Homo sapiens: one gene and its partners. The protein of the gene in region 7 interacts with the protein of the main gene of each other region in a biochemical or structural test. Each region holds a gene or a part of one and is shown on either strand. Other genes may lie near its edges.

What was found.
Region 1: the proteins of DGKK (region 7) and SHROOM3 interact in a test that uses a peptide from one of them, tested with the Homo sapiens proteins (one large-scale study listed by IntAct).
Region 2: the proteins of DGKK (region 7) and PTPN4 interact in a test that uses a peptide from one of them, tested with the Homo sapiens proteins (one large-scale study listed by IntAct).
Region 3: the proteins of DGKK (region 7) and SYNPO2 interact in a test that uses a peptide from one of them, tested with the Homo sapiens proteins (one large-scale study listed by IntAct).
Region 4: the proteins of DGKK (region 7) and MAST4 interact in a test that uses a peptide from one of them, tested with the Homo sapiens proteins (one large-scale study listed by IntAct).
Region 5: the proteins of DGKK (region 7) and PDLIM3 interact in a test that uses a peptide from one of them, tested with the Homo sapiens proteins (one large-scale study listed by IntAct).
Region 6: the proteins of DGKK (region 7) and RIMS1 interact in a test that uses a peptide from one of them, tested with the Homo sapiens proteins (one large-scale study listed by IntAct).

What each region holds. Positions count from the first base shown.
Region 1 is NC_000004.12:76,433,410-76,438,564, forward strand, and holds the start of SHROOM3 (protein Shroom3), read left to right. Parts: upstream 1-1,819; 5' UTR 1,820-2,643; coding exon 2,644-2,811; intron 2,812-5,155. UniProt on the Homo sapiens protein: Controls cell shape changes in the neuroepithelium during neural tube closure. Induces apical constriction in epithelial cells by promoting the apical accumulation of F-actin and myosin II, and probably by bundling stress fibers.
Region 2 is NC_000002.12:119,954,777-119,959,203, reverse strand, and holds part of PTPN4 (tyrosine-protein phosphatase non-receptor type 4), read right to left. Parts: intron 4,048-4,427; coding exon 3,881-4,047; intron 2,361-3,880; coding exon 2,270-2,360; intron 2,189-2,269; coding exon 2,127-2,188; intron 1-2,126. UniProt on the Homo sapiens protein: Phosphatase that plays a role in immunity, learning, synaptic plasticity or cell homeostasis. Regulates neuronal cell homeostasis by protecting neurons against apoptosis.
Region 3 is NC_000004.12:119,024,569-119,028,995, reverse strand, and holds part of SYNPO2 (synaptopodin-2), read right to left. Parts: intron 2,370-4,427; coding exon 1,558-2,369; intron 1-1,557. UniProt on the Homo sapiens protein: Has an actin-binding and actin-bundling activity. Can induce the formation of F-actin networks in an isoform-specific manner.
Region 4 is NC_000005.10:67,141,363-67,145,789, reverse strand, and holds part of MAST4 (microtubule-associated serine/threonine-protein kinase 4), read right to left. Parts: intron 3,676-4,427; coding exon 3,553-3,675; intron 3,370-3,552; coding exon 3,257-3,369; intron 1,122-3,256; coding exon 994-1,121; intron 647-993; coding exon 411-646; intron 1-410.
Region 5 is NC_000004.12:185,502,334-185,505,434, reverse strand, and holds part of PDLIM3 (PDZ and LIM domain protein 3), read left to right. Parts: intron 1-848; coding exon 849-960; intron 961-2,951; coding exon 2,952-3,101. UniProt on the Homo sapiens protein: May play a role in the organization of actin filament arrays within muscle cells.
Region 6 is NC_000006.12:71,892,517-71,896,943, reverse strand, and holds part of RIMS1 (regulating synaptic membrane exocytosis protein 1), read right to left. Parts: intron 1-4,427. UniProt on the Homo sapiens protein: Rab effector involved in exocytosis. May act as scaffold protein that regulates neurotransmitter release at the active zone.
Region 7 is NC_000023.11:50,460,480-50,464,906, reverse strand, and holds part of DGKK (diacylglycerol kinase kappa), read left to right. Parts: intron 1-4,427. UniProt on the Homo sapiens protein: Diacylglycerol kinase that converts diacylglycerol/DAG into phosphatidic acid/phosphatidate/PA and regulates the respective levels of these two bioactive lipids.

The DNA of each region.
Region 1 (5,155 bases), on a different chromosome or scaffold from region 7:
AAAAGTTCTTCCAAACCTGGTCTATCAACTGCTATAGTGAAGGTCCACAAAATGAAGTTTTACATTTTTTTTTCAGATTACATATCAATTTTGGTTCTATGTTTGTTTCTTCAATATTTTTGGTGATAATCTAAAATGGAGATTTCATCAGTCTGCAAGCACTGGGTTCATATTATCTTTTCCTTATTTCCTTTGCCTTTAGCTTCATTACTTTTTTTGTTTATTATTTTTTAAATTGACAACTAAAAATTATATATACTTATGGTGTACCACATGATGTTTTGATATAAGTATGCATTGTAAAATGGCTAAATCAAGGAATTAACCTATTACCTCACATACTAATTTTTTTTGTGGTGAGAGCACTTAAAATCTAATCTTAGCAATTTCCAAATATACAATACATTGTTATAACTATGGTCATCATGCTGTACAATAGATCTCTTGAGCTTATGCCTCCTAACTGAAATTTTGTATAGCTATGTTACTTTTAATATTAAATGTGGATTCTGTAAAATCCCAGTTTTTACAAAATGTATTAGGAGTAACATAATAAGAGCCTCATAAATTAATTTTTTCAGAAAGAAAGCTGTTCATTTACCTAGGACTTTTATTTAAAATACATATGTTCTTTGAAATGAAAGAAAAGCTAATGTTTCTCCATTTATTCTAACTTACAAATTAAGCTGTAAAAGAAAACCACAATAGAAATTGCGTAAATTACCCTTAAGAATCAGCCAATTTTTACCACATACTTTCATTTGGTACACCTTAGGTTTCCTTATGTTTCCATTCACATACTACCATTACATAAGGTTTTACTTTTTTTTTTTTTTTTTTGTCTTTGAGCCCTTCAAGTGAAGTTACCATTGAAAATCAAACAATACCTGTCCAGTGTTGTAAATTAAATATCGTGTAGTTTGATATCATATACCTGCCTTTCCATATCAGCCTTTCATTAATTATAAGTACAAACACCAAAATAATTGTTATCAAGCCCCACAGTAGTTTTTAACTTCAGTTTTCAACTTAATTCTCATTATCCCATACTTTTAAACAGAAAAAAGTTTTAGTACATATATTACCTGGAAGTAATTCTAATCTGTTCCAATAACTAAATAGCTGAGGCTTCTGGGTTAGATATGGTTATCTTCTACTGTTCAAATTTTTAATACAAAGCATGAATGTTAAATTTGTATATAACATTATTACAAAATGACACTGGTAACATGAAATCAGAACAACATTCTTTCCCGAGTACCTAGTACTTACCCACAAGGCATTGTAGATTTCTTTTCATTTAAAGAGTGGATAACAATCTTGGAGTAGATAACAATGAAAACCTAGAAAAAAAAACCCACCTCCTGTTTTTATTGAGTCAAACAAGCAGAACTTTGATTGGAAAGTCCCATTTCATATATTACACTGGTAGTATTTTCTTCTAACGAAAAAAAAAAAGCCCTTGTGCCACCACCTTGACATGTACTTAAACGTTTACCCAAATCACTTAGGCATTGCTTCTCAAACTTGGCTGCATAGCAGAATTGCCTGGAGGGTTTTTAAAAACACAAATGCCTATGTCTCACTCCCTGAAATTCTCCTTTAATTGGTACGAGGCGGGGCTATTCTAGGAACTATTTTCTATCCCTTGGCAATTAGCCATCTGTATAGTATTTTTAACTTCCTACGTGTTATTAACTGTAAGACTGTTTGAATTGTCAGGTCTTTGTGGTGAGCTGAATTCTGCATGGCAGTGCTTACTGTGCAGAAAGGTTGCAATGCCTCACTTTGCCTTAATCCATGTTCCTCTAACTTCCTTACTCTTTCTCTCAAGAGGAGGCAAGTGGCTGTGGCGGCCGCAGCAGTGGCTGATCATCACTGAAAATACCAAAGAAAAGAACTGAGCTGCCTCCTTCATATTTTTTCCATTGAGGATTAATTTACCGTGCTTTTTCATTTTCTCTACATCCTGCAAAAGTTTTTTTCTCTCCTAAGAAACAAACTATGAACTGATTGTTGAAAAAAAGAAGTAAAAAGTTTTAGCACAGCTTCTCTGTCTCTTCGGGACAAGTTAGAAAATTCTGAAGTGAGCCGAAGCATAGTAAGTGCTTTCTTTCTTTTTAAGCTACTTCTGGGGAGGGAGGAGGCTATTGTAATGGTAAATTTCACTCCGAGAGGAAGAAAGGGTTGATAATCAATCAAAAATGAGGTATTCCTTTGAGTATTTGTGATTTTCTTACTATATTGTAAGATGCTTTTAATTTTCTCTGTAAAATAGGCAGAAATGGTTTTAGTGTGTGTATGTGTGAAATAAAAGCTCAGAAAAGCAATCTTCAGAGCGCCACTGAAGGAAGTTTTGACGAACGGAGTAGAGATGTATACCACTTGGGGGCTTCAGTGAGAACCCAGAATTCCTGGAGGAGGATTTACATTCAGAAATGTTGAAGTGAAAATTCCTTCTGGTTCAGCATCTTGGAGTTCAGCTTGGAAGAACATTTTACGTATGGAAGAATTTGCTTCTCCAAACCTCTCTTTTGGCCATTGTGTGTCCTGAAGGATGGGACAACTTGTGCTGTAGAAGCACTGCTTGCCTGAGTTTGCTTCAGGCATTTTAAATTTAACTTGAGGGATCATGTGTTTGGCATGATGAGGACCACTGAAGACTTCCACAAGCCTAGTGCCACATTAAACTCTAACACGGCCACCAAGGGAAGGTACATTTATCTGGAGGCATTCCTGGAGGGAGGAGCTCCCTGGGGTTTTACTCTAAAGGGTGGCCTGGAGCACGGAGAACCATTAATCATCTCTAAGGTATGTTTCTTTTTCCAATATTGCCTTTATTCAAATTGTTTTTTTCAACTTGTCAGATTTGTCAAAAATGCAAAATAATGAGAACTGCCTTAATATAACTTAATTTGCTGTTTCATGCCTTTCTGATTATCTAGAAATATTTTGGATAGCCTGGGATTTGAAAGAAAAATGTGTCTAGCTCATTTATTCTATGAAATCCGAAGAAAAATATGCCTGTTTGATGGATAATCTTCTCTTTTTGTGAATGAAATCGCATACAATCAGTTACCACATGAGCTTTTCAGTTATAAATCAGATTAAAGATTAATAACATGGTTAAGATGGTGGCATGGTATATATTTGTGCATTCAAAAATATCTGCTTTTTCTCTCTTCAACTGAAAATAGCATCTAAAAATATTTTAAGTTTGCTTATAATTCTGGATAATAGATTGCATAAATACCATGTGTTGCTTTTTTTCCCCACACTCAGAAAGGAGAATTAAATCAGCTTTCAGCATAACTCAAGATCAAAACATTTCTGCCTCTCCTATTTATCTGTATATTTGAATCCCTTTTTAAACCTTAGTCATCCTGCAGCATACCTCAATTCTTCATTTATCTTTTGGTGTGGGTAGTCATACCAATGAAATATTTATGTACTGGGGTTAATATTTCTATTTTTCTCTTAAACTACAGATTAACATTACTTGTTATAATATTGCTTTTAAATTTTTAGAGTATTTAATAGTCTGATACAATAGATTATAATGGCTTTTCACACATGTGCATTCATCAAGAAACATTTGTAATTAAGGGAGAAAAAATTTTTAATTTGAGGGTGGGAAGAAGGTAATATGGATTGCATTTGAGCTCTGTTATTGGTTCAGGTTACTTTTCATATCCCCAGAAATAATTCCAAAAGGTTATTTTTCAAATTACTGAAGTAATTCTTACTGTGGATGAGCCAGGGAGAACTGGGTTTCACAGTGATAAGCCACGAGTGCACGGGACACCATTATAAGTTGTATGACTTTTCCTTAACTTTCTTAAGTAAAACAAAAGGATGTGCATATGTGTGTGTCAGTTAGGAAGGCTTCCCCCTGTGAAAAAAATTCAAAACCGAGTTTATAGTGGCTCTCAGTAAATTGGGGTTTGTTTTTCTCATATTACAAGAAGTTTGGAGGTAGATTTTCCAGGCAAGGGGAGCAGCAGCTCAATAATGTGATCAAGGACCCCACTTATCTCTCCACTCTGCCATTCTTATGATGTTGGCTTTGTCTTCATGGTTGCATGATGGATCCCACAACTCCAGCATTGATTGCATCTTCATTCCAGACAGGTTTTTGGCTTTTTGTTTCTCATTAGACCTTTGCTTTCATCTCATTAACCAGAACTGTACCCTGTGCCTGTCTTTAGGCCAATCACTGGTAAGAAATGCCAGTGATTAATACAGACTGATTAGGATTTCTTTCACAGGTTTCTACAATAAGGACCTACTCTTCCTGAAGTCAAGGAATCATTGCCCACTGTTTGAATGATTTGAGGTTCTTTTTGCAGGAAGAAAGAGGGCATGGTTGCTGAATAACAGATAATTCTGCAATGAACATAAATATTGTCTCGGCATTTAAAAAGTCTAGTTGTACACAATTTGCCTGTCCCTTAATGATAAAATATTCTGTATCTATACACTACAGTATCTGACAGTTTGCTGACAGAAAGGTCTAATCCTCCCACTAATGAGCCAGCTTCTCTAAGCCTCCATTTTACCTGCAGAATGGGGCTATCCTACTATCTACTTTAATGGGTTGTGTTTAAATGCAACCATGCATTTAGGTTAGTGTCTAGTACACAGAAGGAGCAAAGATTATGATTATTGCTTTTCATTATTCTAGCAGACATGTGTAGTAGGAGACAGGTCTGGCTGCTGTAAAAAGATCCAAAATAACAATAATATAGGAATTTATTTCTCTGACATAACAGTCTGAGCATAAGCCAAACCAAAAGATGGCTCTATGATGTCAGGGACCCAAGTTCCTTCTATTTTCTTACTTCCATCCTGGAGTGATATCTCATCTTCATGGTCCAAGTGACTTGCCACCACATCTGCTTTCCAGTCAGTAAGAAGCAGGGAAGAGGGAAAAGAGAAGGCAATCTCCTTTCTTTCAAGGATCCAATCTGGTCCAATGTGCTCTGTCCAATATGGTGGCCCACAGTCACATGTGACTATTTCTATTTCAATTAAAGGTAACTAAAATGAAGTAAAAAATTTTAAACTCTGTTTAAATGTTCCTCATTTGCACTTGTTGCATTCCAAGAGTCGTACTGTTCCGAAGCTCTTGAACATCTTCCCCCATGTTGTCTGT
Region 2 (4,427 bases), on a different chromosome or scaffold from region 7:
CATCAAGGATTCTCTATTTGCAAATTTGACTACTTGCTAAAATTTATTCATAACCCTCAAAACAGCTGCAGGGATTTCTTGGTCATCTAGTAGACATACTTAGAGCAGTGAAAAATTTGAGTCATCTGAAGACATGCACATTTCCAGGTGAGATCAAACAAACCAACTCATTTTGTTTTAGCTCTCATACTGTAAACAAGTGGCCTTTTTGCATTCTATGTAGTGCCTTACTTTTTACCTTTTGGGTTTTTTTACTGGTGATTTTGCTGTTTAAAACTGACCCCCAAGTGTAGTTTTAAAGTGCTGACTAGTGTTTCTAAGTGCAAGAAGGATGTGATATACCTCATGGAGAAAATATGTGTGTTAGATAAGCTTCCTTGAGGCATGAGTTATAGTGCTGTTGACTATGAGTTAAATGTTAATGAATCAGCACTATATATTAAATAAAGTGTCTTTAAACAGAAACAACAGTATGTATTGATCAGCTAATTAAAATGTTGTGACTTTTGGCCTGGGGGAACCTAACCCTGTATTTTCCCTAGAAGCAATGATTAAATAGTCTCTAATTTAGCATGTACAAAGACTTTCTAGAGCATGACAACATCGAATGGTGAGAATTAACTCAACTGACATATACAGTGATATATTTGGGCTTAAAAATAATTTGGAGGTTAGTATTTAGCTAAGATTGGCCACTAGTTGATAGCTCTTGAAACTGCGTAAGAGGTATGGGGGGACTCTTTTATACTATTCTCTCTACTTTTGTATAAATTTAAAAATGACTATTAAAAATGTCATTTGCATAATTTCCTTTTCTATGAATTGTCTTTGCATGTCCTTCATCCATTATTTTCATTGTTCTTTTTTTTTTTTTTAGACGGGTCTTGTTCTGTCACCCAGTGACAGTCATGTGATCATGGCTCACTGCAGCCTCAACCTCTCAGGCTCAAGCAATTCTCCCACCTCAGTCTCCTGAGTAGCTGGGACAACAGGCATGCACCACCATGACTGCTAATTTTTATATTTTTATATTTTTATTTTTATTCGAGAAATGGGGTCTCAATATGTTGCCGAGGCTTACTTTTCTTATTCATTTATGAAGCTCTTTGTATATTAAATAAGCTTTTTCTAGTATTTAAAAAATTCCATTTGTCATTTGATTTTAGTAGTTTTTAAGCATACCAAAAATAACAAATTTTACCTTGTCAAATTCATCTCTTTAAGCTTAGACATGTATCTAAGCTTAAAAAACCTCCCCTTGAGATTTTAAACAATTTTCACATATTTCCTTCAAATAATTTCATAATTCCACTTTAAAAATTACATTTTGATATATTTGAAATACATGTTGGCATCAAGAGTGAGTAGAGGTAAAGTATTTATAGATGAACGATATGATATAAAGATCTGCTTCAAAAGAACCTGGTAAAGGTGAAACCAAGTTTGTCATCAGTTGACAAGTGCTGAAACTGAGTGATGTGTACATGAAGGTTGATTTTACGGTTTGCTTTAATTTTGTACATTTGAAATTTTCTAATTACAGAGTTAAGAAAAAAATAGTAATTTTTTTTTCCAGGTAAGAAAAAAAAATGCCTCTTTACAATGACGTATTCTAGACTAGTGGTCCCCAACCTTTTTGGCACCAGGGACTGGTTTCTTGGAAGACAATTTTTCCATGGAGTGGGGTTGGGAGGGTGGGAGGTGGGGATGGTTACAGGATGAAACTGTTCCACCACAGATCATCAGGCATTAGATTTTCATAATGAGCATGCAACCTAGACAATTACTGGTCCATGGCCCAGGGGTTGGGGGCTCCTGTTCTAGACAGTTGACCCAACCACCCATTCACTGGATAGTCTATCTCCAATGATCTAAAAGGCCACCTCTACCATAAACAAAATTCTAGTATCTAAGTCTATTTATGAACTGGACTATTCCATTCCACTGCTCTACCTGTATTAATACACAAGTACCAAAATATTTTCTTTAATATTACTTCAATAATATTTTTCATAGCTGAAAGTTTTAATATTCTATCCAGGTCAGGATTTTAACAAAAAGAACCTCAAAGTTCATAGTGGCTCGTATTTTTCCAAATGGCAAAGGCATAATAAGAATAAACTTACATTTATATAGTTCGCATTGATGTAGTCTTCATTACCTTTTAAAATGACCCGTGTGGCATCATCTAAAAAAATTTAAAAGAAATAATGTTTTAGTAAAGTTATGTTTAAAAGATTAAATTTAACAGAGACAATAAGATACTTACAAGGCGAAATATCTCTGTATCTATTTTTGGAAATATTCTGAGGTAATTTGGCACAGGACATTGTCATTCCAGGTTTTTTCCGATACAGTTGCTAAAAAAAAAAAAAAAAGGTACAATTCCAACAAAAGCCATAAACAATTTCTCTTTTGTTTACCAGACTTGTTTCTACACTAACAGGAAACAGGTTTCTTTGCCTTTGAATAGGTCATCTATACAATGATATACCATAGTCTAGTAGAGTACTGAACCAGATTTGCAAAGCTGAATTCTTCAGTTTCTAACATAAATTATGTGTCATATTTTGAAAAGTGGTAAAACTAGTGAAACCAATTCTGCTTACAGCAGGAGCACCTGAAGTTGTGAGTAGCAAATCTGCAGAAAACATTTAACTTTCATTTAGTTTGGAGGTGTTTACAGTCTATGAACTAAGAACTTTTGAACAAAAACAGACATATCCTAAATGTTTTATAGTTAAACACTTACCTATAACATATATGTCAGAACAACAAATATTAATGATGGTCATTTCTAAAAACACATTAAAAACTATCCAGGGAGCCTAGCATGGCTGTGCATGCCTGTAATTCCAGCTACTTGAGAGGCTGAGGCTGGAGGATTGTTTGGACATAGGAATTTGAGATCAGCCTAGGCAACATAGTGAGAGGCCGCTTCTCAAAAAAAAAAAAAAAAAAAAAAATTCAGGTTTATTAATTTAAACAAATTAGGTTGATATAGTCTGAATAAAACATTTCAAAATCCACTGGGTGATCGTGGGTCAAAATGCACATTATAAGCACTGAAGAAGCATTCTAGTTCATTGGATATAATGATCTGTCTGAAAGTTTTGGTTTTTCCAGTTTTCAAGATTGCACCAATGAAAAATAAACAAAGATTAAATGACAAGGTATAAACTTCAAAAATAAAAGTTATTTTCCTTTAGCTCAGGATTTTATTTATTTATTTATTTATTTATTTATTTATTTATTTATTATTTTTTTGAGATGGAGTCTCACTCTGTCGCCCAGGCTGGAGTGCAGTGGCGCGATCTCAGCTCACTGCAAGCTCTGCCTCCCAGGTTCACGCCATTCTCCTGCCTCAGCCTCCTGAGTAGCTGGGACTACAGGCACCTGCCACCACACCCGGCTAATTTTTTGTATTTTTAGTAGAGACGGGGTTTCACCGTGTTGGCCAGGATTGTCTTGATCTCCTGACCTTGTGATCCGCCCGCCTCGGCCTCCCAAAGTGCTGGGATTACAGGCGTGAGCCACCACACCTGGCCAAGCTCAGGATTTTAAAGTATATAATAGCCTATCTTCATCTGCCACCTTTCAAAAAAACAGCTATTTAACTATAGAAAAAAATTTAGTTTGATGACATATGTATAAAATTTCCTTATCCCTCTTTTTAAAACATATTCTATTTATATAACCATAGCTAGTATTTTGGGAGCAATTTTTAAAACTTGGCATTTTAGAACTCTTTATGTCAAACATTTCTCAGAATATCATTTTAGTTTAGAAATTATAATGCACAGATTAGGCACTTAAGAAACTATGAAACTAGTTAGCAAATATCAGCAAAATGCTTTTAATATATAATGATATTACTTACATCAAACTGTGTCAGGACTGTTCCAGTGATAAGCCCCTCAGCTAGCTGGATCATTGACTCCCGCAGGGAATGGTCATCCTGATGCACACTATCTAGTGGGGCTTTCTCAGGAATATACTGGAAATCTGGCTCATTTTCTAGCTTTTCTTCCACTACATCATATACAGCTAAAAAAAAAAAATCAAACAAACCCCAAAACGTGGAAATCTTAATGAATTCACACGATAGGAATTTACCAGATACACTGTATAATGTTTTGTTCAAAAAATAATTCATTTGTGAAGAATTACACCAGATCTGAGTCTGGTGTCACTATGGGGGGACAGAAACTAGTTGTGGAGTTGAGGGGCTTTGCTGTACCTTTGGAGGGAAGAAGTGTTCTTGGCTACATTGCTGAAAATGTCTATAACTTGAAGAGACAGTAAGAAAGAAGAGCTGCTGAGAAGCAGCTGTGAATACACCCGCTCTTAATTTGTAGGGGACCTAGGGCAAGAGTACAAATAGAGACCTATATACCATATGTTTAACTATGAGAAGTTACAAAAAA
Region 3 (4,427 bases), on a different chromosome or scaffold from region 7:
TAAAACAAGAATATGATTTTTATTTTATAAAAATAAAAATATTTAAAATTTTCTTTCATTATTACTATTATAAAAAAGAAATGGGTGGCAAATTATAGCAACTAAACATATAGCATCTATCATTTATAATTTATAGTTATATCATATTTTCAATGATAATGACTGTGAGTCCCCTAAATTTTTTAATTCCTCAAAACAGTTAAGTGGAAAATTAAGAAAAAATTTTTGACTATTTTATGATTGAAAATTAGCTCTTTTTGTCACAGACTTAATGGTTAATTTTTTTTAAATAAAATATAATCCAAGGAAATAATTTTATAATATGATTACAGGCATTTACTGGTGATCGAATTTTCTAGAGAAAAATAGTTGAAACTGTGGTTATTACTAAATAGAATTCCTTTTTTGACTAGTGTTATACAACTTATTAAATTGACAGTCACAGTTGCACAGTTGCTGCTAACTTCACTGCCAACATGTAAAGTATGTGAATGGTGTCTCAATACTCTTGTTTAATATGCTATAAATGTGAAGATGGCCTACAGATGCTTAAAGTATAAGGAATGATTAACAGCACTTGCCAATAAAGCTACAAATGGTTATGCTAAAAATATGCTTTGAAAGGAATAACAATAGGTTAGAAGACTTAATATCCTACTTTGAATAACCGAATTCATTGCCATTGTGTATCATATATACAGTCAAGTGCCTTTGCCTGTCAGCCTTTACATCCTCAAATAAAATTCCAAAATTAGTAAAAAAAAAAAAAAAAACAAACAAAAATAAACGTGAAATAAAACAATAGAAATCCTAACACCTAACTGCAATTCTTATCCCAATTCTCCTTTCTGTCTTCTCTCCCCTGGGTAAAACAAAATGCCATACAAAGCACTGAATTTAAATATATTTTATGTTTGGAGACATTTAAATGCCTCCACATGGCCCTGGAGACTGACTTCTGTGTCTAGAAGGTAGATGAAACACTTTGCAGTCAAATGAAGACTTACACAACGGAGAGGATCATGTAACTGCTCAGTATACACATGTCCTTGTCTGTCAAACTCACTTCTGCAAGCATCATCAAGCTGCACAATGATTTTTTTTCAAAACAAGGATCTGCTTTTGATATCAATGGTAGAGCTTTTATTTTAAAGACACCTCTCAGTAGCAGACTCAACAGTTTTTGACATTTAAACTGAGTCCACATGACTTCAAGTGCTTTCTTATGCTATTTTAACATGAACTATTTCAACTGTCTGAAACAAAATGAACAGGCACATTGACAATATTATTTTCTTTAACAGTTCCTGTGCCTTTGGGGATAAAAAGAAATTCATGAAAAATGTTTAAATCTATATGAAGTTCGGACTTATTGCTTCCTATTTAGAAATTGGTATTCTCCACAATTTCACATTTGTGATTTTGTGCATTAATTAAATATTTCTTTAAGCCAATGAGAAACATAAGAAAAATCTTGCTGAAAAACTCATGCAAGCAAAGAAGCAGCAAAATGCCCCCAACTCCCAAGCCCCTTCTGAAAGCCCAGGCAGAACTTACGTGCATGCCGCGCTCGGTGCTTGTGAGGTCTGCTGTGATCTTTTTCCGAGCGTGGATCTTCTCCCTGCTCTGTGCCTTCTGATGAGACGGCAAAGGATACCAGAGAAGGAGGTGCTTCTGACTGCCCTCCTTCCACTGGAGAATCCACACACTCCTTTCCTGCCTGAAGCCTGCACCCTTCTGTCTTCTGCCTGTCAGAGCAGTCGAGGATCACTTCCACCCGGGGCAGTCCCGCATCTCCTGCTTCACTTTCCTGGATCACTCTCAACTCTCTGCCACTGGAGATCTGGATTATCTTGCTGGACCTCAGGAAAGGGTCTGCTTTCTCATTAGTAGGGATCGAATTTATGTGGACAATCCTGTCATGTGACAAGTTAGGGTCTGGGTCAGGAGACTTAGATTTTTCAGCTCCCGGGAGAGCCACTAAAGGGCCACTAGCGCCCTTATGTCTCTCCTGTGAAAGGGACAGTTGCAGCTCAACCACAGGCCCAGGCTGTACCGCTTCTACCTTCTCCCTTAAGATCAGCTCTTCTGCCACGCGTCCTCTTTGGGAGTCAGGCATTTGGGGAGCCCTTTGGTAGCTCGGGCCTGTTTCTTCTTTCAAGCTGCCTGCACAGTCGGGACCACTTCTTTGGTTCTCAGCTAGGGGAACTTCAGTCTTGACAGGGGCGAGGAAGAATTCTGTGCACTGGGTCTTTGTGGCCGGTCGAATCTGCAGGGTGGTACTTTCCACATAACCCCCATGTGTGAGATGCTCGAGGTTTTTGTTTTCATTTTCAGATATCAAAGCCTCACTTATTCCACTGGATGGTCTGCACACAGAAAAATCATTCCAGACACTTAAATCAGACTATGTTACATCTGCCAAAGAACTTCCTGACACTTTTGTGATGTCTAATATGTGATATAGTCAAAATATTTTCTTCTAAATGTCAGTTGCAACATATTTGAAAACAGAAGGTGGCAACATGTTCATATTATTACTTAAAGAGATACCAAATAAACTTTTTTAAAAGCACAAAGAAACTCTTACACAAGATTATGAAACCTGAATCCATCCTAAATTCAGCTTTTATTTTTAAAAAACTACATGGATCCCGTTTATCTGTAAGTACTTGGAATCTGGGTATCTCTTATAATGAGTTTGCTAGAATGTGACAAAGCATTTCAATGTCTTATTGACTAAGTTTTGGTCTAGACATTATGAAGTCACATAAACATATCCAGCACCTTCAGATCAATCTTAACTTACAGATAACTCAACTAGTCCTTTTAGAGGCTGTGCTTTCTTGAAAGGAATGAAATAGAAGCTGTTTTTTAAGCCCCAGTGAGCATGTGTTTCGTAATAAGTGGACCCAGCCCAGTACTCTTGCGTAAAGAGAAATCCTTTCCGTGCTGCAATGAATCATTAAGTCATGGAGTATTTATAATCTGAGATGTCTCCCTTTCTTCTATTTGGATCTGTTTCTTGGAGCATTTTCTTTTTAGGATATCTGAAGTCAAACTGTTCCTTTATCTCTCAGCTAAGGAGCCTAGAGCTGTACACCACAGCTCTTTGATTTTGATCTTCCCAGTTGTCTGTGCAAATTTGGGTTTCTGAGAAGAAGCAATGTCAGTTTAAGAGTTAAATAACTTCTTTCTGAAACTCTAATTTAAACTGTAAATGTTTTTAGAGGTATTATTCACAGAACAGCTGTAGGAAATGCCTTCATTTTTTATATTTGTATTTTTTTTAATTTTGGAAGCAGCATAATTATCTTTGCCCCTTTCCTCCTTCCTTAAAAGACAGTTATGACTCATGCAGGCACGTCAGCTGAAGGGCGTGAGCTTCTACTTGGATTCTACTCAAAGGAATTTACCTTAGAATTTATGTGGTAGTGCAATTTCCGACCAATGCTCAAAATACTTACTCCTACCTTTGCTTTCAACTGCATTTGGCAAAACAAAACTAAACAAAATGAAAACAAACTAACAGTTAAACAAAATGCACCTTTCTCTATACGCAAGTAATTGGAAAAGCTTCCCTGTAATACAGTATTTATACAACATTATAATATCGTATTAAAAAAGCATGATGTTAGCAAATTAGATCATTATTATGTAGAAAATGTTAAATACATTGTTAAACTGAATTTGAGGGTACCAAAAGGTCAGAGAGTTTTAATTTAGGAAGGCCTTGGGATGGAAGTAGATTAAATCACTTTGAATAACGTTAGCAATCAATTGTGAAGCTGAGAAGAGAATAGTTTCAATTCATGCCAGCCTTGTAGACCAATACAGACAAATGGCCAGATAAATATTAACATTTATCAGCAGCTGAAGTAAAATAAATAGACATGAGTAAATATCATAAAAGCATGAGCGAATAAAGCTTTATGCCTTAAAACATTCATTTCCCATCAGTCTACATAGGTATTCATCAAGTCCACAATTTATGTGTCACAATTATAGAATTTTTAAAATCTTATTTTAAGAACATTCAAGATAATAGAGATGGAATGTTAAAGGAGTTATTTTAAAATAGTCTTACTGAGCTATCTCTGGGCAATAGTTCAGGAAAAGTAAAAACACTTGTCCTCTACTGATAGATGACAGTGATATGAGTGACAGAAATATTTATTGCAGGAAACAATATTCAGATATTTAAAATAGTGGTAGTGGTGGTGATGATAATAATTGCTTTTGACTTGATTTTCAATTGAGATTCCACTTTGAATCCTACCAATTAGTTACTTACTTTGTAATTTTTTTTATTTTATAAATTTAATTATGTATTAGTAAATTATGTATTTTATAAACTTATTTTCTCTTCATAACATGAAGGAAGGATTCTAAGGCCTTAAACACTGAGTTTGATGGGTAAATATTTA
Region 4 (4,427 bases), on a different chromosome or scaffold from region 7:
AATTCTGACAAGCTGACTACTTGATACTGGCTCTTACACTGAACTTTTGAGTTAGATGCAACTGTATAAGACATACCTTTGCATCAACAACTGAGAACACGCTCCCTTAGCACGTTCTGACTTCCCTCAAAAGATCCCCTGCAACCTGGCTGAGAAAGTGAAGTTTGGCCCCAAGGTCAAACGGAAGCAATAACAGTTTGCTGCATGGCCGAGCACTGAGGAGGGGTCTGAGACATCTGATCTTAGCTCTCAGAAGATCGTGTCCCAAGCCTAAGGACTGAGGCCATGGAGAAAGTCTAGCAGCATAAAACACCCATCTTTACTGCCTGGCGAGGCCCGCCCTGGGACTGAGCACTAGGAGACACTTAGTGTGGTGAGGAGGACAGCAGGCACTATGGCCCGGGGCTTACCTGACAGGGTGGAGCTGCTGATGGTGCTGGCTGGGGTGGTGACCTCAGGCTCCTCCTGGGCACACTCTTCAGGAGGAAGGGCTGGCTTTCCTGGCTCCTCATGGGGGTCTCCAGGGCAGGAGGCAGCTTCATCTTGCTCTCCCTCTGTTGAAATAGCCAGTTTGGGAAGTAGGCCAGAACTGAGTTTATGTCTGTTGCTTTCAGTATCTGAAGAGTTGGATGTTGATAGCTGTTGCCTTAATTAAAAGCAAAAACAAAGTCATATATACATACTAGAAAACTGTGTTAAAGGTGAATTTTGGAAGAAACCAGGTGAAAATCGGACTTGGATAAGCCTAACCAAGAGATGTCTAGTGCAATGGTTCTTAATGTGTGGTACCCACAGCAGCAACATCTGCATAATCTAGATACTTGTCAGAAATGCACATTTTCAGGCCCTACCCTAGATCTACTGGATGAGAAACTCTGGAAGTGGGAGATCTGTGTTTTAACAAGCCCCCCAGGTATTCTGATGCTCACTAAAGTTTAAGAAACTCTGCTCTAGTAGCTACTGCTTATATTACTTAAGAGGCATTTCACATACATTTCAGAATATTCTGAACTCCAGCTCAGTGTTTCTGTGGATGGCAAGGTGGTGCTTTTGGTTTTGTCCACAGAGTCTTCCTTCTCTTCTGCTGAATTCTGAGTGATTCGATCTATACTGCTGAAAACCTGGAAGGCAAATAATTGGTGCTTATTAATATCTACTAAAAAGAGTTTGTCAGAAAAACACTCCAAGTCTTGGGAGAAAAACCTGAGAGGATAACTAAATTCTGAACTAATATTGTGTATTCAGAAAGTACTTTCCAGTGTTGTTAACCAGAATCCAGAGAGGAAGGGTCAGGGTGAGTGAGTGTGTGTGTGTGTGTGTGTGTGTGTGTGTACATATATACGAATAGGGAGCTATGAATTCATCATCCTCTCATCATATCTTGTTGCGGACTTTGTATCTGCAAACAAAATCCACAGATGCAGTGGAGTTTCTAGGCCTTGGGATCAATGCACATCTTGATTACTTTTTAACCATGAAGTCAACTGGAAAAAGAAAATAACAGAGAAACAGATTTAATGGCCACCAGTCAGGGGTGGGAAGAAGAAAAATGAATTGGAATTGAGTGCAAACAGAAGAATAAATTATCTGTTTCAAGACTGGGTGGTGGTGTGGCAAGGATGCAGTACATATTCCGTTATAAGAGCCAGAGGTATTTGTTTCGCTTACAAATCACATCTATAGACAGGCAGTTTCCTATGTTGGTGCCGGGGTTCCTGAAGGGGATCGGAGCTCAGGTAAGCCCAAGGTCTCAGCTATCTGTGAATCTCTGTTGTCTCATAAGAGAGAAGGTAAAATGGGGGTCTAAGAGCCTAGGGCAGGAAGCGCTCCCTACTGCCCTGCTCAGACACTTGCTGCTCTCATGGGAATGGTCCTCAGGCCTCCTATAATCTACTAGGAATAGCAGGAAAGTGGCTACAGAAAAGGAGATGGTGGGAAAATGAAATACCCACCAAGGCAAAGAAGGAAGCAGTGTTTAGGGGTTGGCATTGTTGTCTTTGATGGCCCAGAGAACAGTCCTGGTCTGAGTCCACACTTAGCAAAGCTTCTGTCCTGGCTCTAGGACAGACTGGCTACCACCTTCTCCAGGGAAATCCTTACCTCGATGCCATTCCCATACACAGGAGGGTAGTGCTGGCCAATTTGCAGGTGCATCTAGGTAATCATTTAGAAAAAGCTACGGAGCACTTTAAAATCACTAAATGTTATAGAAAAGCTAAACAATAATCATGCAAAATGCCATGGCAACAGAAAATATATAGCTACTGAAAATAGCAAAAGGGAGGTAGGGTGCCCTCAGGTTGATTTCCGTTTTTCCTAGGGCCTTGTTCTGTCTCAGTACTATCAGTTTTCTTTGTTTTGATTAATTGTTTTTTTTAACTTTTACTGTACTGGTAAAAAGGCATCTTTCTCAAGCATCAATTATCTAAATGATTCTAGCTTGGCTTCCTACTGCCTTTTCAATATGGCTTATAATTTCTGTTTATTGGTTACAAGACTTTTTTTTTTTTTTGGCTTTTTTTTTCCTTTTTGTGGAGAACGGGGTCTCACTATATTGCCCGGGCTGGTCTTGAACTGCTGGGCTTACGCTATCTTCTTGCCTCTGCCTCTCTAAGTGCTGAGATTAGAGGCGTGAGCCACTATGCCTGGCAGTTATGAGACTTTACAATCCTACAGTCAACTGTCCGCAGGTATCTTTGCTTATGTCAAGGACTGAGCCTTCTCCTTTTGTTGTACTCTGTGTAATCCCTCGGAGATGACTCTGTACACAGTGAAGCTCGCGCTCTTCATCCTGAGTTGAAAGCAATGAGTGATACCTCTGCAGCCTGGCATTGAGCCAGGTGAGAGACGTTCAAGGCAAGGTCATCATATAAGTAGCAGTCACACACTCCAAAAACAAGACTGTGGGTGCAAGGCTATGCCTCTAAGAAAACAATATCTTAATTTGTGGAGAGAGAAATATATTGGTGCCGGGGTTCCTGAAGGGGATCAGAGCTCAGGTAAGCCCAAGGTCTCAGCTATCTGAATCTCTGTTGTCTCACAGGAAAGAGAGAAGGTAAAATGGCAGTCTAAAGGCCTAGGGGATAGGGACAGACTATAAGTTGAGGAGGTCACTTTTCTTCAACAAAAGGAAGTTTAAGCATAGGAGACCTCAAACCCTGGAAAACGGTAAGTGTCCAGCTGTTCGGGGATACTATCTGGCCAGCGGGAGATCCTCCCAGAGAGACTCTGTATGTTTATGCCACATTTCACTTACTTTTGAAAACCTGTGTGAACATGAAGAAAACTGCCTTATTTCCACATTAAAGTCTTCATCATTTGTGTCATCTTCTTCCTCCGTTTCCATATGATGATACTTCTCAGACCGAGCTGCAGTGAAATGTTTGGGAACAGGTCCAATTACTCAGATTTTCAACATTTAGATATTTTAATTATGATTTTCTGGATCAACATTATGTTTAAGAACTCAGAGATATGAAAAGGTTCAAAAGCAAAGATAATTATTTATCGAGTAAAGGCCAAACAATGTTTTATGTCAGATAAAGCACATACTATCAAAATAACTTGTGTCATCCTCAGATTCCAGTTGGGGAATAAATTCTGCCTTCTGTCTCAGCAAACTGTTCCAGTCTAAAGAACGGAAGAATCGATGCTGTTTGACTTCATATGCACCACCTGGAAGGGGGCAGGTAGAGACAGAGAGGAAAGTGTTAAACTATCCCCACTAAGCAAAGGCAAACATCAGTTTTTAACAACAATTTTGAGAACATATCAGCAAAGAAATACAGACATGAAAATCATACTTTTTCATTCTACAACCAAAGCCCCACAAGTTTTTCTGATAATTTATCAGTAGGAGATTTGATGTTGCTAACAGCAGTTGCTATGGCACTGTTTTTCTTTGTTAGTTTTTTTCCATGACTTCCTCCATTTTTCAAAGGTTAATGATGTGGCCACTTAAAATCACAGTATGCTGAACCTGGAGATGTAGATAAATATTGGCCCACAGCAGACTCACTCATTAAAAACCCAGAGAAATTCTAACAAGGTGCAAAATGTGTTCACAGCAACATTTCCTCTGGAGGTAAAGTGAATATTGATAAATTTTTCCTAAATATTATTTATAGGGGTTACCATTCAATTTTAGTGGATTGCTCATTAACATAGATAAGAATTAGATTCTGTGGATTACAGATTTGTAAGTAGGAAACTGACAAATCTGTTTTATAGACTTTTAATGTCTCCAAAATATCCATCACCATTTCCAAGTTTCAGGCTTCTTTTTCCAAGTCAGCATGAAAGCATAATTCAGTGAAATGTTTTCAATTCAGTTTATAATTTTAAAGAGCGATTTTAAAGGACAGGTCATCAAAAATATGAACACCATACCCCATATAAAGAGAAAAAGGTACATGTTATAATATCAT
Region 5 (3,101 bases), on a different chromosome or scaffold from region 7:
GGCCAGGCTGGTCTCGAACTCCTGACCTCGTGGTCCACCCGCCTCGGCCTCCCAGAGTGCTGGGATTACAGGCGTGAGCCACCACGCCCAGCCTGTATGCCAGCATTTATCTTATTCACAATAGCCCAAAGAGGGAAAACACCCAATGTCCATTGACTGATGAATGGATAAGCAAAATGTAGTATACACATACAATGAAATAGTATTCAGTCTTCAAAGAAATTAAATTCTGACACACGGCGCACCATGAATGAACTTTGCAAACATTATGTGAAGTGAAAGAAGCCAGACACAAAGAGGCAAATATTGTATGATTCCATTTATTTGAGAGATCCAGAATAGGCAAATCCAAGAGACAGAAAGTAGAATGAAAGTTACCAGGGGCTATGAGCAGGAGCACGGGGAGTTACTGTTTCATGGGTGGGGAGTTACTGTTTCATGGGTACAGAGGTTCTGTGAGGTGAAGAAATAGTTCTGGAGGTGGATATTGGCAGTGCTTGCACAACATTTTGGATGTACCTAATGTCATTGAATTGCACCCCTAACCATGGTGAAAATGGTAAATTTTATGTATATTTTGCTACAATAAAAAATAATAATGCCCTCTGCTCCTTTGAGCGTTTTTGTAACAGTTTCCTCCAACCACAACAAAATAAATGTTTTCACTAATTCCATTCTATAATGCCCTATTTCAGAACAGCGTCCCTTATGATTGCATCAGTCCTGCCCCTCTCGGAATGACGGTGCAGATGCAACTTCAGGTTAAAGTGCACACTTTAAAATAGAAGCCAAGCACAGGCTGCGGCCAGCTGTTCCCTAGCCATAAATGGAAACGCTTTGTTTTTCAGATGACCGTCCGGCTGGAACGCGGAGTGTGAGAGCTCCGGTGACGAAAGTCCATGGCGGTTCAGGCGGGGCACAGAGGATGCCGCTCTGTGACAAATGTGGGAGTGGCATAGTGTAAGTTTCACTTTTAACCCTGGAATTTACGATACAGCTTGGCGACAGTTCATTTCTTCTCCTTTAAGACTTTATAGACTAAAGGCAACTGTGAAAACCAAATTTCTATTCATCAACTTGAAACGTAAGGTCCCCAACATTTAGCACATTGTGACTGTCACTCCTTAGATATACCTCCAAATTGTCACATCACATGAGTCAGCAATTTTGACTTACAATTTCAGATAGATTCTCATGAAAAAAAAAAGATGCCCAAATGTATGTTGAAAAGTCACGTCTAAGAATCAAGACTTCACTTTAAACTCCCCCACCCCTGTTAACGTATAGTGTTTAGTAAATGCATACATGAACTGTGTATACATTTAGTATACATAGTATCCTCCTCTGTATAAACACAGGGAAACAAATACAGGCAACAGGATGTTACTTAAAATACATTATCCTTACCCAGTGTAAGTTACACAAATGTTGAAACAAAATATTGAAAAACTGTCAGCTTCCATTACAAGGGAACTTTTATTTATTCAGAGATAGAGCCCTGCTCTGTCACCCAGACTGGAGTGCAGTGGCGCAATCTTGGCTCACTGCAAGCTCCACCTCCCAGGTTCAAGCGATTCTCCTGCCTCAGCCTCCCCAGTAGCTGAGATTACAGGGACCCACCACCACACCTGGCTAATTTTTGTATTTTTGGTAGAGAGGGGGTTTCACCGTGTTGGCCAGGCAGGTCTCAAACTCCTGACCTCAGGTGATCCACCCGCCTCGGCCTCCCAAAGTGCTGGGATTACAAGTGTGAGCCACCGTGCCCGGCAGGGACCTTATGTTTAAATAGCCACACTTGCTAGTGCAGGATCAAGTCAACCAAGATAATTCTAACATCTCCATGGCATTCGTGCCATGTGGCCACGTCCCCATTCCCTTATTCCATTCCTCCTGCCATGAACTCACACACTGATGTGTCCTCTGTCCGGTTAGCCAGGATACATCCCAAGAAGGCAGTGGGGGATAAGCCTGGTTAGGGCAAAAGGAGGAACGTGAGACCAAAAGGTCAAAGCAGGGCAGGGAGCTCGGAGCAGAGAGGCCCTCAGTAAAATACAACAGTGCCTGACGTTACCAGAAGCAATCATTGTGCCTAAGTTGGAATAAACTGTTCACAGTAGAAGCCAATCCACCCACCCCAAAGGAATTCCATCTCTGCTGTTTGATCTGGTTTTTTGTTTTGTTTTGTTTTTGTTGTTATTGTTGTTGTTGTTTTTGAGACAGTCTCGCTCTGTCGCCCAGGCTGGAGTGCAGTGGCGCGATCTCGGCTCACTGCAACCTCCGCCTCCCGGGTTCACACCATTCTCCTGCCTCAGCCTCCCGAGTAGCTGGGACTACAGGTGCCCACGCCCGGCTAATTTTTTTGTATTTTTTTAGTAGAGATGGGGTTTCACCGTGTTAGCCAGGATGGTCTCGATCTCCTGACCTTGTGATCTGCCCGCCTTGGCCTCTCAAAGTGCTGGGATTTCAGGCGTGAGCCACCACGCCCGGTCGTCTTTGATCTGTTTTCTCTTGCTCCATTGAATAGAGGCTGGACCACGCAGACGGAAAGCAATCAGAGAGACTCTTCATTGGGTAGACAACCACCCCCGTCAAAAGCAGAATCTTTTGCAGAGGGGTTGGTCTTGTCTCCATCATGTCTCCCTCTTCAAAGAAACGATGGGGAAAGATCATGAAGTAGGATCCTACAAATTTTCTATAAAGTACTTGTTTGAAAATCTGAAAAATAGTCACACGTCAACATCAGAGAGAAACACGGGATGGTTTATTGTGGATATCCTAGATCTCCATGACAATTACATACAGTTTCACGGCTGTGCCTGCTTTCACAGCTGGAGGCCATTGTTTCCTGACTGTGAAATAGAGAACATCTGCCTTCTCTGTTGGGTTCTCTCCTTTGTCTCATATTTTTGCTCTGTGGTTTTTTAACTTGAGCTCGTTTTCTTCCCCAACAGCGGTGCTGTGGTGAAGGCGCGGGATAAGTACCGGCACCCTGAGTGCTTCGTGTGTGCCGACTGCAACCTCAACCTCAAGCAAAAGGGCTACTTCTTCATAGAAGGGGAGCTGTACTGCGAAACCCACGCAAGAGCCCGCACAAAGCCCCC
Region 6 (4,427 bases), on a different chromosome or scaffold from region 7:
ATGCAGTAATATAGATCTAGGGATCATTGACATATACATGGTTGGAGCCATTGACGGAGATACACAAGGAACTGCATATAAAATGGGAGAATATGGAGAATAGGACCCCATGAGAACGCCAACATCTGAGATTCAAGAGAAGATAAAATAGAAGCATTTAGAAACATTGAAGGCAAATCAAAAGGATATGGAATTATAGAAGCAAGGGCAAGAGGGAGCTTCAAAAGATTCTTCACCTCTTATCATAACCACCACTCAATTTGCACTATTTTGTGTTCTTGAGTATTTAGTCTTTTCCCAAAGTGCGTATGTCATATTTTTTTTAATTTGCACAACCTTACTAGCAAAAGTATCTGCTTCTTGTGGCCTGGTACCATGTTTATTTCTCTTCTATTGCATGTGGACCTCCTATAGCCTTTAACTATGCTGCATTTATGGAAGTCAGGGACTAGATAGCCCCTGGACTGATTATCCATCATAGTTGTACCCAATAGTGACTGTTAAAGCTTAGGCTTTTGGAGCTCTAAATACCATAAAATCCCTTTCTAATGCTTGTGTCTGGCATGATACTTAGACCATAATATCTTTTTCAGACTAGCATCAAGTTTTTACTTCAGGTTGCTATATATTAGGTGGCTAGATTTGACCTAGGGTATGCAGACAGCTGTAAATTGAAATATCCATTCTCAATATAAGAAGACTTTACTGTATTTTATTTTTCAAAATTACACTTTTATGAAAACTGTCACAATCATGAATAATATAAAATTAGAATCTCTTTAGGATTTTGGATCTTACTAAAATTTCAATATCTAAAATAAATGAGACTGTTCATTTCAATATCCCTTTATTCCAGATACTAGGATGTAAAATGTCTTCATTTTTTCCCAGAAACAAAGGGGTTAGGAAAGAAGGCTTAAGCTCCAATATATTGCAATACAGAGATAGCCAAGGAAGATAAATCTGCTAAGCTGTGTGAAATATAAAAGGAAAAGCCATTTGGTTACTTTACTTTTGTTTTCATCTCTTTCTACCAATACGCTAAGTAATCTTTCTGACCTGGATAGAACCTCTAAATGTGGATATATACTACCATATAGTTAAAGAAACCCAATACATTGATTTTTACATACCCTAGGTACTTCATATACAATCTGCCTATTTTTTCCAGAATAAAAACCACATAAATTGAAAACAAAACAGCTAGCAGCTAGACATCCTATCAAAGAGTTTCTTTCTTTCCTTCTTTTTTTTTTTTTTTTTTTTTTTTGAGAGGGAGTCTTGCTCTATCACCCAGGCTGGAGTGCAGAGGCACAATCTCAGCTTACTGCAACCTCCGCCTCCCGGGTTCAAGAAATTCTCCTGCCTCAGCCTCCCAAGTAGCTGGGATTACAGGCATGCATCACCACGCCGGCTAATTTTTTTATTTTTAGTAGAGATGGGGTTTCGCCATATTGGCCAGTCTGGTCTCAAACTCCTGACCTCAGGTGATACGCCCTTCTCAGCCTCCCAAAGTGCTGGGATTGCAGGCGTGAGCCACCGCACCCGGCCTCAAAGAGTTTCTTGTTACATTGGTTAAAAGCTGTGTTTAAACAACAAAAACAATAATATGGCACACAATGCTTGTGCACCAATAACTTACAACTTTAAAATATATTCTTGAGATTAAAAATAGTCTTCAAATATTAAGCAATACTGCTTTAAGTACAGAAAGCCATATGTAGGTATGTAAATTGTGAACTAATCAAATGGACGATGTAAAGTCCAGCAAATACAGCAAGAAAACTCCATCAAGATTACTACATTAGTTTCCACTTGTGAGTGTGTATATTATGCATGAGAGTCCATTAAAAGAAGCTAAGTAGTGTAAGACTTTTATATGACAGTACAGATATCTTAATTGGTTTTCAATTTACATACCTTCTCTATGTAAATATACTATCATCTTCCAGATGATAATTAAATTACCTGGCATAATGATGGGTAATACAAACAAATACTAAATAATGTATAAATCATTAGCATGGTATTATTTTCTATATTACACAAAATATCTTTCATTCATTATGCTTTAAAATAGCTAATATTATAATTAAGTGCATTGATTACTTACATATTGCATGAAATTACTTTCTATAACATTACCTTATTTTACTATCTAAACATCAGAGGAATTATCAAAATATTACAAATAACATGCAATTACTTTCTGTAACATTACCTCATTTTGCCATCTAAACTCAGAGGAATATCAAAATATTACATCCCAAAATCTATTTAAATAAATTCTCACACATTAAAGATGTCTTTGGTAAACTGCAGGCTGCTCTTTGCAAGGCTCAAAGGAGAATTCTCATAAAGACAGTCCTGTATGAAGTCGCAATTCATAACTACTATTATTTGAAAAATGTTTTGAAATTTTAAATTCAGCTTTGCCATAAAAAGCATCATTCTGTTGAGATTCCATAAAAGAGAATACCTTATTTCCTTTTTTTTTTCAGACAGAGTCTCACTCTGTTGCCCAGGCTGGACTGCAGTGGCAGGATCTCAGCTCATTGCAGCCTCTGCCTCCTGGTTTCAAGCGATTCTTCTGCTTCAGCCTCCTGGGTACCTGGGATTACAGGTGCACTCCACCATACCAGGTTAATTTTTTGTATTTTTAGTAGAGACGGGGTTTTACCATGTTGGCCAGGCTGGTCTCAAACTCCTGAGCTCAAGTGATCCACCCGCTTTGGCCTCCCAAAGTGTTGGGATTACGGGAGTGAGCCACCACGCCTGGCTGATAATACCTCATTCTCAGAAAAAGTGTTCTCCATTTACCAAACAATGATCAAGATTTTATATCTACCACTTGCTTGCATTACTTATTGTTGAGATATATTTTAACACTGTTAATTGCTTGATTTTCTGAAGTTATAAATGAAGAATTTGGGGAAGAGAAAGCAAGATTTAAAAAGAGGAAGACAATATAATTTGTCATCCGGGTTGAAACTCAAAATTGAGAGAAGGGGTTACCATACATAATAATAGCAGGAAATTGGTATAAACAGATAAAGGAAAATCAACATGTACAGTCACCTTCCTTTTAAACAGCTCTATTTTGCCTTTAAGTAAGCATTCGTATGAACAGGAAGTTTTCACAATATTGCAACAGAAGCAGAAACATCTAAAATCAATTCTGCAGAATAACCCCCTCTTGCTGTCCACAGAAAAGTAATCTAGTCAAAATAAGTGTATATAAACTCGATGTAAGAATGTGAGAATATAAATACAGAAAACCTAAGGCATCCAATAAAGAATCTTAAAAAGTTCTTAAACACATGCAATTTATTACATCACTCAATGGTAAACTGACATGAAAGAAAACTACCTGACAAATATACATGACCCCTTATTCAGCTAATTCTGAAAATGAAGAATTTATTAAACCCAGTGACACTAAAATTATTACTGTATTTCTCCAAATTTTTTTCTGTAAAAGATGAGGAAATTACCCCAAGCTAATTTCTCTTCTCATTTTTGAATTAGGATTGCCTTTTAGATCTTTCAAACTTTATCACTTTGCCCACATTGCTTTTTGTGCTAAAAACATGTACGAGCTATTTAATGAGAGGGGAAAAAAAAAAAGAAAAGAAAGAAGGTAAATATAGTCTCAGACCAAGCCCTGAACTCATTTTACCTTTTAACTCCTTGTCAAATTCTCACACTGGGAGCTGCAACCCTGGCAACACTGCATTGCTAGCATGAAAGGATAGGTGGGCTCTTCTCCAAGAGCTCATCTTCCCAAGCCCCCTAGTACCTTCAAAGACTACTGGAAAATATAATCTTGGTGTTCTACAGTTTTAACAAATAAGCATAATAATGGCACCTTTCTTGGAAACAGCAATTTGGAGGATATGATGACTCCACTATCATTTTAAAGCTTCACAGATTAGAAGGACTGCCATTATAAATTCCACTTTACATATAAAATCTGATGCTTGGATGGATTATCTTGACAATGTTCACACCTATAAAAAGTCATAATGTTAAGACCAGAATCTAGTCCAGTGTTCTATCCAACTATCCAGCACTCACCTCTTTTTCTGACTACGGCAGTTTTAAAATGATAGGAACTCAGCCAACATTGGGCTGTAAGCAGAGGATTCGCCTTTATTCTACCCCAGCAGCCTAATGCCTGACCTAATTCTAATACCTGAAACAATGGTCTTGTTGAATTAAATATCATATGACACTTTGTTAGAAATAGCCTATTTAATAAATAAAATTCAGAACAATAGTGGCAAACAAAGATAACTCATGGTTAGGTGGAATGGTGGGAAAATGCTATGGTATTAGGGAACCCTGTGGGCAAAACAGCAAGCAGATAAGGAAAACTCCAGGTACAAATGGGGTTAGAGAGTCACCTGGGGCCAGAACTGCGGAAG
Region 7 (4,427 bases):
GGTTTCTTTTGAGGGTGATTAAAATGTTCTAAAATCAGAGAATGGTGATGGGTGCACAACACTGTGGATACAATAAAACCCACAAAATTGTGTATGTTAAGATGATGAATTTTATGGTATGTAAATTACATCTCAATTTTTAAAAATAGTTCAAAGAAAGATACCATCCCTCTAACCACAAGATAAGAGACCTATTATTCTCCCAAAAACAAAAAACAAACAAAATTGAAAAAAGGAACTAAAAGAAAGGGAGATCCTCTTAAAGGATCTTCAACCTCGCCAAGGATAATAACCTTTATTTGCCACCCCTTCAATTAAAAAAAAAGAAATTAAGGAAAACAAACAAAAAAAGGAAATCTTTTTAAGGGCAGATATTCTCAAAAATCATAAAAGTTAATGAAATTTACGAATCCTCCCCTCTAGATACACACATTTTAATTAAAAAAAGAAAGAAATATTAAAGGATAGGTCCCTGACTATACCAAATCTCCAGAATTTTTAATTCCAAGAAGCAGGGGCGCGGGGGGTGCGGGAGGGAGGGACAAAAGAAATACCACTCCTCCATGACTAAAGAGCATAAACCTTATTCTTAAAATACAATTTTTTTTAAGATTTAAAATAAAATTAAGAATGGAAGGGTATATGTGTTGGTGAAGAGGATATTACTAATGAAACAAAAACAGAATCCTCTTAAAGAGAAGAAGTACTTCAATGTCACAAAGACCCATTAATTTTCCTGTCAAAACACAACCAAAAAAAAAAAAACCGATTTTTTTAAAAGAAGAAAAAATGAAAGAAAATCCTTCTAATGGGAGTTGACTCAAATTCACTCAAAAACTTTATTCTTTTTATTTTATTTATTTATTTTTAATTAATTTTTAACTGATGCATAATAGATGTACATATTTTCAGGGAACATGTGATAATTTAATATATTTATATAATTTACCAAAAGATTTATTCTTAATATAGAATTTTTGTAATTTGAGAACAAATAGAAAAGATAGGTAGGGGAGAAACACAAAGCCAAGAAAGTCCTCTTAAACAAAAGTATTCTCAGCCTCAACAAAGCCCCTTTTTTTCTCAAAACAAGCAAATACATTTAGAATTATGGGGGGCGGGAAGGGAAGAACATGAACAGTATATTTTAAAGAGAAATATTTTTCTTAAGGAATGAAGATGCCCCCAAACTCACCAAAGTCCTTGAATATTTTTCTGAAAACAAAAAAGAAACAAAGAGAAGGAGAGAGGGAGAAAGAAGGAAGAGAAGGGAGAAGGAGAGAGAGAAACAGAGAGAGGAAGGGAGGGAGGAGGGGAGAAGGAGAGAGGGAGAAAGAAGGAAGAGAAGGGAGAAGGAGGGAGAGAAACAGAGAGAGGAAGAGAGGGAGGAGGGGAGAAGGGAGGGAGGGGGAAAGCCGGACAGGTAGAGAGGAGAGGAAGGTAGGAGCAGGTAGGGAGAGACTGAGATAGGGAGAGGAAAAAAGAGGGAGAGAGACAGAGGAAGGGAGGGAGCCAGAGAGAGAGACAAAGGGAGAGGTGGAGAGGGAAAAAGAAAGAGGGGGAGAGAAGGGAGGAGAGGGAAAAAGAAAGGGGAGACGGAGGAAAGGAGAGGGAGAGAGGAAGGAGGATGGGGGGAGAAATGTGAAGGGAAGGGGAAAAGGACTAGGTAGGATAGAGTGAAGGTGGCAGAGAAGGAGGGGTGGGAAAGAGGAAGAAGAAAATTAACAAAGGGATTATTTTTTAAAGGATCAAAGAAAGAAATTCTCTCCAGGAAAATGCACCAACACCTTACTGCAGACATTGCGTATTATTCCTGATGACTACCCTCTCCATCCCCCACAATAAGGAAAAAAAAACCACACACACACAAAATCTCTTTCTCAAGCTTCTTCAAGGTGGGGAATGTGCGTGTGGGGGGGGTGGTGGGTATGTACCCAATCTCACCCTATCCCAGGGACCTTATGTATCTTTCAGCCTTCACTGTTTCATTAAAAAAAAAAAAAAAAAAAAAAAAAAAAAAAAAAGCAAGGAAAGGAAAAGAAAATCTTTCCAGGAGAGATGTCTCCCATTCTAATTTTTCCCAATAAACTGTTTCTTTTAAAGAAAAGGAAAGAAAGAAAAATCCTACTAGGGAGGGCTCCCCAGCTTCATTAAAACAAGTTGCCCTTGTAGGTCCTCTCCACAAAACCTATTTTTTAATGGAAATCCTCCAGACCTAAAGAGAGATGCTCCCCCACCTCCACCAAAAGCAATGAATCTTTTCCCCTGGAGATTTTTAAAGAAAAAAATCTTCCATTGTAAGAGGAGATACCTTCAACTTTACTAAAATCAATGGACTTTATTCCTCTCCACATCCAAGAGGAGAAAAAAAATATTTGAGGAAAAGGGAAGAAATCCTCCTAATCTAAGGCAAGTTGGCTATAATCCCTCCAACACCATTGAACTTTCTTCCTGAGATTTTTTAAAAGAAAAAGCAAAGACAGAAAAAAAGCCTCAAAAAAAAAAAAAAAAAAAAAGCACTCACTTCTCCCACAGGCTCCACAGATCTGAAGTGTTGTACAAAGAAAAGGTACTATCCCTCTCAAATGGCACCAGTGAACTTTACATTCAGCACTAAGGCTAAAGGATGATACATTTTAATCCCAGGCTGGCTTCCCGCTGCCCCAGTCTATTTCTGGTTACCTTCCCCATCATCCAGGTAGGCAACACTCCCAAGAAAGGCACTGTCCAAAAGAAAAAGAATTAGGAGGCAAACCTTCTGGGGAAAAATCATACCTCTTTTCCAAACCGAACAAATGATTTGGGAATTCGCTGCGTCATTGTTCCCATCTAACACTACAGAGAATTAAGAGTTGATGATAAACTCAAAAGCAGTGACACTCTTGCTATTAACTACCAATTAGTCAGACACCCCTACCTAACAGGGAAGGACCCTTCGCCAACTCAGTAATGGAGGTGATCCATCCTCCATTATGTTTCATTATGTGCTGGCTTTGATGTCTGTTCCTGCAGGGCGATAAAAGGGCTTGATTTTCACAAATCCATAAAATTTGCAAATCATATTTATAAGCAGAGAGACTCAATTAATGTTTTCCAAATTTTAAAATTCATTTATTTCTTTAAAACGTAAACTGATACCTGCTCCCTATGTGCTATGTGTTTAACATTGTGCTAACCACTGAGGATTCTACAGTGAACAAAACCACATGGATGAGACTACCTTTAAGCAAAACTGGTAAATGAGAGACTCAATTACCAAAACAAATATGCAGATGGTGGTTATTTGTTTTACCAGATGCTTTGCCAAGGTATTCACTATTAATAGTCAGTTCTCTCAGCATTCCTCTACTTAAACTAAAATTCAATGTAATAAAATAAAGGAATGCATGCTAATTTCAGAGAATGTGGAAAATCAAGAAAGCTTCTAAAAAGTAAATAAAAATCATCTAGTACCCCACCACTCAGAGATAATCACTGTTAATATTTTGCTATATTTTTCATTTATTTTCTCTGAATATTTGCTTATAGTCTTCTGTAGTAAGACTTTGGGGAATGCACAATTGTGTCTCGGGCTTCACCCTGCCCCAGTCACAGCCCCACACGCTTAATTATTAGATCGTGTTCATTATTCTACCTTGGATTTAGGAAACACTTGTTCATTTTAGCTTAAAGTTCATCTAGTCAAACTCCTGTCTGATCTGATTGTTAAACATATGCTTGAATCACAACCATTCAGGGGCATATTTGCTGTGTGAAGCAGTAAGTATATAGATTTTATGTAGACACAATTGTTGCAGTTGCTCCCATATACAAATGCAGTTTGATCTCACATTTACTTACTGCACTTTTTTGGACACTTAGATTTTATTTGTCCAGTTAGCTTTTGTGACTTGGCCTTGGAGAAGGAGATCCAGAACAAAACCAACCTTATCTTCCCACTGTTAAATTCCCAAAGGGAAAAAATCTAAATTTCTGAGTCACTTTTAACTATATGCCAAAAAAAAAAAAAATTAGTGATGGCTTTGTCTCTTTAACAAGAAGTTACAGCATTATGCTAAACTGGGTATGCCATACCCAGAAGGGAAATAAGAATATATGAGGACATTATCCACAATTATAAGGAAATAGAATATTCAATTCATCCAGCTTTCATTAACCAAGTGTGATCAAAACTTGAGAGAGTTAATAAACTGTATACAACCCAACCAAGGCTGAATCAGTAATTTAAAAGGGAAGTGTAATGCATTATTGAGTAAGATCAGAATCTTCAGCCTGGTCAGTAGCACTTCAGAGATTTTCATCTTCCAAAGCATTATAGGCATTTATTGTTTAAGCCTCTTGCTTTAAAGAGCCTGTAAAGGAAATATTGGCCCCTGAGGACAGGGATTCTTACCCCTTGTTTCCCTCAAGCACGTGTAGGATACTGA